Regions from separate parts of the Homo sapiens genome. Here regions 1 and 2 are each reported to be linked to region 3. Evidence: microRNA targets listed by miRTarBase, many of them from high-throughput screens and not tested one by one. Region 3 holds a microRNA gene; each other region holds the end of a gene's coding sequence.
What was found. Region 3 holds the annotated microRNA hsa-miR-3668 (AAUGUAGAGAUUGAUCAAAAU, at 1,588-1,608, opposite strand). A microRNA usually pairs through its seed, bases 2 to 8, with sites in the 3' UTR of a target mRNA and lowers its output. Matches are read on the target gene's strand: a 7mer-m8 pairs with bases 2 to 8, a 7mer-A1 pairs with bases 2 to 7 and ends in A, and an 8mer does both.

Region 1 (3,262 bases), not on the chromosome of region 3:
TGTTTATACAGTGATACTTTGCATCAAAAAACAAACTCAAAATAGAGATGTTAACTTCTTTGGAAGTAAAGTAATTTTTTCTTTATGACCTTGAATAAATAACCAAAGCAGAAATGTGAATAACTTGATAGCAAGACAACCTATTAATTCATTGGGCAACTATGTATTTCGATTTTTGGTTGCTTTTCCTTTAAGACAGTAAAATTGGTAGATTATTCACTTGTACTATATACTAATATTTTTAAAAATTCTTTCAGAAATGCCAGATCTGGAGTAAGGAATATTGTCATCACCTGGATTTTGAGAAAGAAAAATAACTTCTCTGCAAGATTTCATAATTGAGAGAATTCCTGAGTTGATAGCTCTAAAGGCAGATATGCTGTATTTGCCTACTTTAACCCATTTTTCAACCTGTTTGTTTTTTAAAAGGCTTCACTAAGGGTTGATATGTACCATTGTATGGGGCAATTTTAAGTCAGCTAAGGCAATAACCTTATGCATGAACATTTCCCAGACTTTCATGAAGCTGTTGAGGTCCTAGGCAATTAATGCAGCAGTTGCGATAAATAAAAACATCTCACCTAAGTCTCCTTTTCTTCATAACATAGATACTGACATGATAGGAAGCTCTCAGCTTAGGGAAAGAGAATAAATTTTAGATTATAGAACATGGATTCAAAAGTGACTGGAACAAATTGGCTGACACCTTACTGGTAACCTGCTATTCTTCTGGTGTTATCCTTCAGGATTGTTCCACTAAAATTTATTTTTCAAAAAATTTACTTCACATTATTCTATGTAAGTGATGACTTGTCAGTGTTCCAGGTGTATCTTAGCTAAAACTAGAGAATGCCCTAACTTAGATGGTTTTTGAAGCCTATACAATTGGTATTGTTTGACCCTTAAGCTTTTACATCTCTTAGCATGGAGGACGAAGAAAGCTGTACATTGTTGCTTGAGAGTCTGTACATTTAGTCCAGATTTGTATTTGCACTGTCAGTATGGCAAATGAGTGAAAAATGTTTAATACACTATTGGATTTTTTATTTCCTTTTTTTGATTCAGCTTATACCCGGGCTGAAAACCTCAATTTATGTTCATGACAGTGGGGATTTTTTTAAATGTCTACATTCTTTCTAATAAACTGTTGGAAGACTTCTTGGCTGTCCTTTTAAGTGTCTGGCTTACTGTAATTTTTATGTATTTACCATTTACTGGAATGGAGTTTATTTGAGGAAGAATTTGGGATTATTCCTCTGTTTGAAAAAAGAGGCTTGCTGTAATGTCACAGGAAACCTTTTAAAAGTGGATCTGTAATAGCATATTGTAGATGCACTTTGCAGCAGTTGGAAAAGAAAGTGTTGTGTGATTTGATTGAAATAAAACTAAATGTGTTGTCCTCCTAAATCTTTGAACTTCTGCATTTTGGCAGTTTTCATTCCCTCACAGCTTCTGTATTTGTCATAATGTAGAAACACTATGTATTTTAGTGTTTCTTTGTCAGATATTCAGGACCTGTGTTGCAGGCAGTTAAAGTGCTGGTGATACAAAGATTAATATTTCAGATGATTGCTGAGCTCAGAGAGCTCACAGGCTAGGGGAGACAAACATGAGACAAAAACTTGATGGAAAGTGCGATAATAGATACGCATAATGTATTACGATGTGTAGTTCTTAGCTTCAGGGGGGAAAACATTTTAAAAAAACTTGTTTTTCTTCAAAAAATTTATACTTCAGTTTTGGGAATTAATGATTCACTGGCTTACTGCCCAGCCTTGAAACGCATTATACAGGCCGGCACGGTGGCTCCCACCTGCCTTTAATCACAGCACTCTGGGAGACTGAGGCGGGCAGATTGCTTGAGACCAGCCTGGGCAATGTGGTGAAACTCCCTTTTTTTTTTTTTTTTTTTTTTTTTTGGAGACGGAGTGTTGCCCTGTTGCCCAGTGCAACTTCCACCCTCCAGGTTCAATCGATTATCCTGCCTCAGCCTCCTGACTAGCTGGGATTATAGGCGCACTCCACGTACCCAGCTAATTTTATTTTTAGTAGAGCTGGGTTTTCACCATGTTGGCTAGGCTGGTCTCGGACTCCAGCCTGCCTCGGCCTCCCAAAGAGCTGGGATTATAGGCAGGAGTCACCACGCCCGGCCTGCGAAACCCCATCTTGACAAAAAAATAGCTGGGTGTGGTGGCATGTTCTTGTAATCCCAACTACTCTGGAAGCTGAGGTGGGAAGATCACTTGAGCCTGGGCCATTGGGGATGCAGTGAGCCAAGATTGCACCACGAACTTTTCTGTAGACAAGTGTCTCAAAAGCCGGGCACGGTGGCTCACGCCTGTAATCCTAGCACTTTGGGAGGCTGAGGCGGGAGGATCGCCTGAGATCAGGAGTTCAAAACTAGCCTGGCCAACATGGTGAAACCCTGTCTCTACTAATAATCCAAAAAAATCAGCCAGGCGTGGTGGTACATGCCTGTAACCCCAGCTACTCAGGAGGCTGAGGCAGGAGAATCGCTTGAACCCAGGAGGCAGAGGTTGCAGTCAGCCCAGATTGTACCATTGCACTCCATCCTGGGCTGCAAGTGAAACTCCATCTCAAAACAAAAAGACGGTCTTGCCCAGGCTGGAGTGCAGTGGTGCAATCATATCTCAAGCACCACACCTGGTGGACTTTATTCATATATTTTGTAGAGATGGGTCTCCATGTTTCCCAAGCTGGTCTCGAACTCCTAGGCTCAAGTGATATGCCTGCCTTGGCCTCCACAAGTGCCAGTATTAAGGTGTGTGTCACTGTGTGTCACCTGGCTATAATTTTAAATATTTTGTGTTCAAACATTTGAACAGGTTTTCATCAGTCCTTATTGCTTAGGTATCAGACCTTGTGCGTTGTACCTCATCTCTAATTCAAAGCTTCTGTTAAGAACATTTTCTGGGGCGGGCAAGGTGGCTCAATTCTGTAATCACACCATTGAGGCGCCACTGCACTCCAGCCTGGGCGGCAGAGCGAGACTGTCTCAAAAAATGTTCTGGGCTGGGCGTGGTGACTCATGCCTGGCCAACATGGCAAAACCCCCTCTCAAAAAAAAAAAATGATCAATTTAAGATTGTGAGTGAAATTTTTTAAGTTTAGATGAATGGGTATAGCATATTTTTTGTCCATATTGATAGGTTGTGATATTGGTGCTATACGGTTCCCTAAACTTAGCTATTTCCAAGGAGGGCAGATTGAGGGTGATTGCTACAGTAGCATGAAGGTTTTC
Region 2 (3,241 bases), not on the chromosome of region 3:
CAACATGCCCAATTTCCTAAGAGATCAAATCTTGGATTTTGTGAGGCTAAATGAAAATCACATACGACTTCAGCTTCTGTCTAAATACATGGATTTTTGACCACTTGCATCTCAAATTAATTTTTAAGTCACTCAGAGTTCTAATTTTTAAGTCACTTAAAGCTAAAAGCCAAGATGTATGACTTCAATTTATTTTCAGTTTTATAAATGAGTGTAAAACACAATAGTGCAGTCATATATTTGGCATTAAATCTTACTAGCCACAAAAAAATGTGGGTCAATATTGGATTTTCCAAAGTTGTCTAAATAAGACTGGGTTTGTCAAAACTTGCCAGACGCTTTCAAGTGAACACAGCATGTTGGCGGAAATGAAATATAATGTCTAAAAGTCAGAAAATAGGTCAGCACTGTGCAAAAGTAAACTTGTCAGTGAGATCAATATGAACCTACAAGTTAATGTGGATATTAGAATTTCCTTACAAGGGATGCACAGGGTAGACCCAGAACACGATTGTAGCATTTATTCACTTGCGAAAAGCAGAGGGCGTATTTAAGTATTATTTTTTGTATCCTTAATGAAAGGCACTGCTTTTTAATATGGAATATTTATATTTAAGCACAGCTTTAATTGACAGAATGTCACAGTAAATTAAATTCTGGTTCAATTGCTCAGTTTTTAGCAACATAAAAAATAAAAAAAGGGGAGTAAAGATCAAGCATCATAAAATTTCAGAGATAAGAAATCCCTCATGAGCTTTCTCTATGTTAAGTGTTTCAGAGAATTGGATATTGTGGATAAGATCGGTAAAAATTTTTGTAAGAAAAAAAAAACAGAAAGGCCTTTCTTGGGGCTTCTCATTGCATTTATTTAAATTTTTTTAAAAATGTACATCACTTATTTATTGAATACATAAAATGCCAGTGCTTTGCAACAGTTTTGTTACTGCATCTCTAAACTAAAAAAAGAAAAGGGGAAAAAACCCAGGAAAATACATTCAAAAGGCCAGGCTGTTCTGCTTATGCATGGGCAGTGGCTGTGGAAAGCTACAGCCTGCTCTGTGACAGTTCAGAAGCATTGCCAAACATCAGCCCACTATCAATGAAAGGTTGCACATAAAGCATTAAAGGATACAAAGAACAACTTGACAGAGAGCAGGAGAAAAATAGGAAATTAAGAAAAATGCCACTTATGCCATGGGTAGGGGTGGGGCTGGTAGACTGAGGTGGAAGTAAGCACAAATGCTGATGTCTTTGGAAACTAGATTTACGGTGAAAGATGGAAGAAAACAAAGTAACATGTTTGGCAAGCTACATTGCAGTGTGTGTGTCCACTTCCAATTTTCTACTTTACTTTCCAAGAGAAATGTAACAAAACTGAGGTAGAAATAAAGCAGGAGCACTACAGCCCAGATTTCAAAATGAGAAGCAAAATTGCACTGACAAGAGTGGAGTCAAAAAGAAGGGGAGGAGATGGAGAGGTTCTTTGTGGATATATATATGTGTATGTAAGTTGGTTTGTTGGTTGGTTTTTGTTTTTATTTATTTGTGTATTTGTTTTGGTTGCTATCCTCTGCATTCTATCAAACAGCACGGCAAGTCTATAAGCTAGATTAGTGAATAGAATGACACCATTCCCAGCAGTTTTAAGAGATAACTTGCAAACTACCACCACCATCACCACCACTACCACCTATGCAATAAAAAGGCAGTCATAGTTTTTAGGTACTGTGACTTTCAGGGTCCTAAACAGGTCTTGTGGCTGACAGGTCTAGACACTAACACAAACTGAATAAGTAGCTTTCAATTAACCAGTGTACCTTTTAAGAACATTTTCACTTAATTATCAAGGAGCAATGTACTAAGAACTCTTGCAGTTATTGACATAAAGAATTATTCTGCTCTGGTTAATTCCCCATAATTAGTAAAAGAACTTAAAAAAATCCTTCCATTTCTACTTTAAACTGTAAATATTCAGTTGTATCACACTTCAGTATTTTTCTGGATACATTCAAAGTAATTTTCCTTGCTATTTTCCAATTGTTGAGGTAAACATACATTTTAATATAAAGTAACATTGAAGCCTATCCTATTACTCTCAGCAGTACATAGTGCTTTCAACACATTCCTTTGAGGTACTGTACAAATCACAATCACTTTCCTGAGTTTTTGCAGACAAGAACATTAAAAGAAATGAACTGCAGAAATTAAGGTCCAGATTACCGTTACCCTGTTTTACCTGTTCTTAGCTTAATACTGCAGAACAGACAGGATTGAGGAATACTGTTGCTCTTAAAATGGCAAAAATCTGGTTTTCTGTCATAACACAACTGTTCATCTCTTTAGTCCAATAATGTTTGAAGTTAAAGCTCTTTATATTAGCACATGCCACCAATGTAATTGTGAGGCAAACAAAAAATAAAGCACCACTCCAGGCACTTGACAGCAACTAAATCTCGAGAACAGCAGAATGGAATCAACACACGAGGTTCATGTCCTTCTGAAATCAACACACTTGCACCTTGCTCCTTGGTGAGTGTTGTCTAGCTTGAACAGAACTGAGCATCCACATATGCTTTCTGTCATCTGGGGCTTTCAAATCAGAAGCTCTCATTTGATGCACTTTTCCTCCAAATCTACCCTGACTCTAAAGATGCAACTTAATCGTCATCTTCCCCAGTACCCTTTGCAATTTAAACTCTACTGGAAAGGGGCTCTATTCCCTATGTAGCAGGTTTTATGTGTGTGTGCCAACATTCATTACATTTTTTTTTTCTAAAGAAGTTATCACTGACTGCAACCAAACATTTTGTTCCATTCAACATACATATCAAGCTCCTTTTGAGATATGCTAGGCTGAATCTTGCAGAAAGCATTTTCAAAGTCTTGATATGTAACGGGCCTCAACTGGCTGGGCATAATGGCTGAAAGGTCTGTGGCTGGCATGGCATGGAGGGGGCCCACCACTGCTTCCTGACACAAATGAGCCACATCTAGTCCAGAAAAGCCTTCTGTGCGCTGGACGAGCAGTGCAAACTCCTTGTCATTGAGACAGTAATTGTGCTGTGAGAGCAGTTGTACTATTATCTGGTGCCTCGCTGTGCTGTCAGGAAGTGGGATTAAAAGTCGTTTCATGAAGTACCTCCGAAGGGATTCATCTATTTCTTCTGGTTTACTGGTGGCACAAATTACTACGATTTGGTCCTCAGCCGAAGTTAGTACAGTGTCCAGTTGCATCAGAAAT
Region 3 (3,262 bases):
AGGGGTCGGGGATCTCTCTGTGGTCTCTTTTATAAGGGCACTAATCTCATTTATGAGGGCTCCCAAAGACTCTCCATCCTAATATCATTATCACCTTGGGGATTCGAATTTCAACATATAAATTTTGGAGAAAAACATTCAGTCCATTGCAGTTTCTAAAACTGAAGATGAAGATGCCTTTTCAGTTTTCATCAAATACAAATGGGATTTTTTTTTAGAAACAGGAATAATCAATCAACAAATCACTAAATGACTAACAGATATATCTGGATCATGTGACTAAGCAAAATGAGACTGGTTAAAATCACTCATTTCACCTGTGGGTATTCATTATAGTTCCCATTTTAAAATGTGAACATGTAAGTAAATTTCAAAGGTCATACATCTAGTAACGAAACAGGAAAAGTTCCCTTGTCCCCTCGCCAGGCATGCGATGCGGGTGTGGCTTGCTACTTCAGTGCCCCGCTCCTCAAACCTCTAGGGGAGCATACAGATGGGCAGGCTGTGGGGCTCCGCCCCCAGGGCTGAGTCTAGGGGTGAAAGTTTACAGCTCCTGAAGCCCCAGTGGGGTGTGTTACAGAGTGCTCTTTTAGTTTGTGGTCTATAGGCGACTTATGTCAGCTCAATTAGACCCTCTACCTTGTCACAAGGACAGAGGGCTTTCTGTATCCCAGGGTTTCTTGCCTTGGTGTACTGGAAGAATTGGTTCACATGTGGGCTTGAAGAATGAGTGCAAGGTTTTACTGAGTGGAAGTAGCTCTCTGCACATGGGGGAGCCAGAAAGGAGATGGTTTTCCCCTGGAGTTGTGCCACTCAGAGGCGCGGGCTCTCCCGGGCTCTCCTCCAACCACCCCAGCCAAACTCCACGTTGTTCTGCTGGTCAGTAGCCTGCCAGCATGCGGGTGCTGGTGCATCCCTCTGAACATCCTGTGCCTGTGTGTTCCTCTGCTGATGTGCTCCTCTCAATGTCCAGCTGCTTCTTCTCTGCCTTGCTAGGGTCTTGGTTTTTATACACACAGGATGAGGGCATGGTGGGCCAGGGTGGTCTTTGGAAATACAACATTTGGGCATGAAGGCAGGAGTGCCTGTCCTTACCTAGGTCCGTGGGGGTGGAGCCCCAGCCAGGGACCACGCCCTTCCTCTACCTAGCACTTTCCTTCACCCCTTCCATATCATTTAAAGGAGCCACGCTCCTCCCTTCCCAGCACTTCCATATCAGTAAGATGGAGTTTGAGTTTAACTTTTTGACTCCAAAAATGTTCATTTGTTTTCTGAACAAGCGATGCTATTGATGACATTGACAAAGGTTAGGGTTACAGTGAAACAAAACTGATTGATTGATTAGATAGAATAGAAAAAAACATATATATTATTCTAAGCTTTTCCTGCCATCATCTTTTCTGGGGAAAAAAAAGAAATAATATAGTTAGTTATAAAAAAGATCCATGGTTCAGCAGATGCTGGTCATATGTCTTAATTTTGTCACTGCCTTTCAAAATAGAGACACAAAGGGCATAATACTTTCAGACTTCAGTTTCCTCATATATAAAATTGCAGAGATTGATCAAAACTATTTTGATAGAAACTATTTTGATCAATCTCTACATTTCATATATTTTAGGCCAGTTAAACTCTAAGACATTTTTAAATAGTTGTAAAATAGTTATAAATAGAAGAGATACAGAAAGGAAAGGAGAAAGGACTAGTGTAATATTTTTCCAAAATACAGCCAGGCAAGAAATTTTAGACTACCAATGACTCTCTTCCAATATCTTTTTCTTTGTACAAAATATACTTCAAAAAAGCAGATGATGACCCCAGTGTGAGGGAAAGAGATTTAACACCTGTTTCACTCATTTTTGTGTCTTATTATATCACCTTGTGTAGAAATGAGCATAACTGATCATTTTCATTAGGTATTGTAAAATAATAAGGGCTTGCAATTAAAGATATGTACTATAAGTTTTGTAACACATTTTAAAATTAGAGCCAATATAATCATAGAATTTTAAATACAGGATGTAAAATAAATGAACTGCTATATATTTCAACAGATACCTTTACTATCAAAACATGAATCTAAATCATCCGTAATGCTAATCTCTTTTCCAAAGTGTTAGAACAAAAATGCCTGTATTATAGTATCATAGTTAGTTGCTGTACTTTCAAAATATTACATGATTAACAGGTAAATTACATGGTATTGATAGTAACATTTCTTTTTTAAAAAAAATCTTTATTCAGTAATATTCAAGGTAACCAGTACCTGGGAGAATCTCTACTCAAAGAAGTTGTAGAAAGAAACCTGAAAATATTTCATGTCTGTTAGGTTATGAACATTTGCATTTGAAAATGAATATCCTAAAGATTTAAGACCAAAAACAAAACTAAATCAAACAAGTTTCCTTAAGCATCCCCATCAATGATTTTTCAAATGGTAATTAATAGCACCAACCAACATAATTCAGGATTGGAGAATCTATGACTCACAATAAAAGCCTCTTTGGGGTGCCTAGGTTAAGAGAACATACAATTATGTGCAACATGAACTTAAAAGGAGCAATTAGAATGAGTTGCTTTTGACACAGACAATCATTTCTGACATTGAAATCTCAAAACATTTCAGAATCACATATTAAGGGAATGTTCATTTAATTAAAGAAGAATCAGAAGATTCAGATATTTATATTGTGTCAGTTTCATTCACTTTGTAACTAGGGTTGGGAATAAAGCACAAAACTTTAAACTGGACATTCAGATGTCACTGCTAACCACAGACTTACATTCTTTTGCTATTTATACCATTTGTTTACTTTTTGCATTTCCTTAGCTTGGACAGGGACTTTCTGCTTCTAGTCAATTTCACTCTTATTTTTGGCTCATAAATAAATTTTCCAGTACTTCTGGAAAATGTTACATCTAACAATTTTTTTGCAAAGAGATGATGGAAACATTCCTATTGGGATTTAATAAACTGGATGGTGAGAGTTGTCACTACTATCCCAAGAGATACCCACAGTAACCAAAAACATGTTTCCCAATTGTCTCTACGAGGTTGACAGCAGTAATAAAGAATATCTCCTCTCCTTTACCTTATCAGCACTACCATGTGATACGACTATTCTATTCTTTACAACAAAGGGTCTCCAAGGTTAGCCTGGCAACAGCTCAAACATACTCCAGCCCCACTTGAGTTTTTTTAATGATTCATTGAGAATTTCTGTCAATATTGTAGCCTGGAGAACTAAACTCTGCTCTCTGC

Region 1: the mRNA of PTGES3 is a reported target of hsa-miR-3668. Seed matches in the 3' UTR shown: 7mer-m8 at 1,125-1,131.
Region 2: miRTarBase lists FIGN as a target of hsa-miR-3668. Seed matches in the 3' UTR shown: 7mer-A1 at 2,722-2,728.

What each region holds. Positions count from the first base shown.
Region 1 is chr12:56,661,494-56,664,755 of GRCh38, reverse strand. It overlaps PTGES3 (prostaglandin E synthase 3), which reads left to right. Exons shown (of 8, transcript NM_006601.7): 8 at 258-1,407. The coding sequence ends at 277. Among named protein-coding and RNA genes, the nearest start is that of ATP5F1B, 17 kb to the right of the region's middle. RefSeq lists a silencer at 2,924-2,973.
Region 2 is chr2:163,606,768-163,610,008 of GRCh38, forward strand. It overlaps FIGN (fidgetin, microtubule severing factor), which reads right to left. Exons shown (of 3, transcript NM_018086.4): 3 at 1-3,241. The coding sequence ends at 2,785. Among named protein-coding and RNA genes, the nearest start is that of FIGN, 130 kb to the right of the region's middle.
Region 3 is chr6:140,203,606-140,206,867 of GRCh38, reverse strand. It overlaps MIR3668 (microRNA 3668), which reads right to left and starts at 1,616; the gene lies at 1,542-1,616.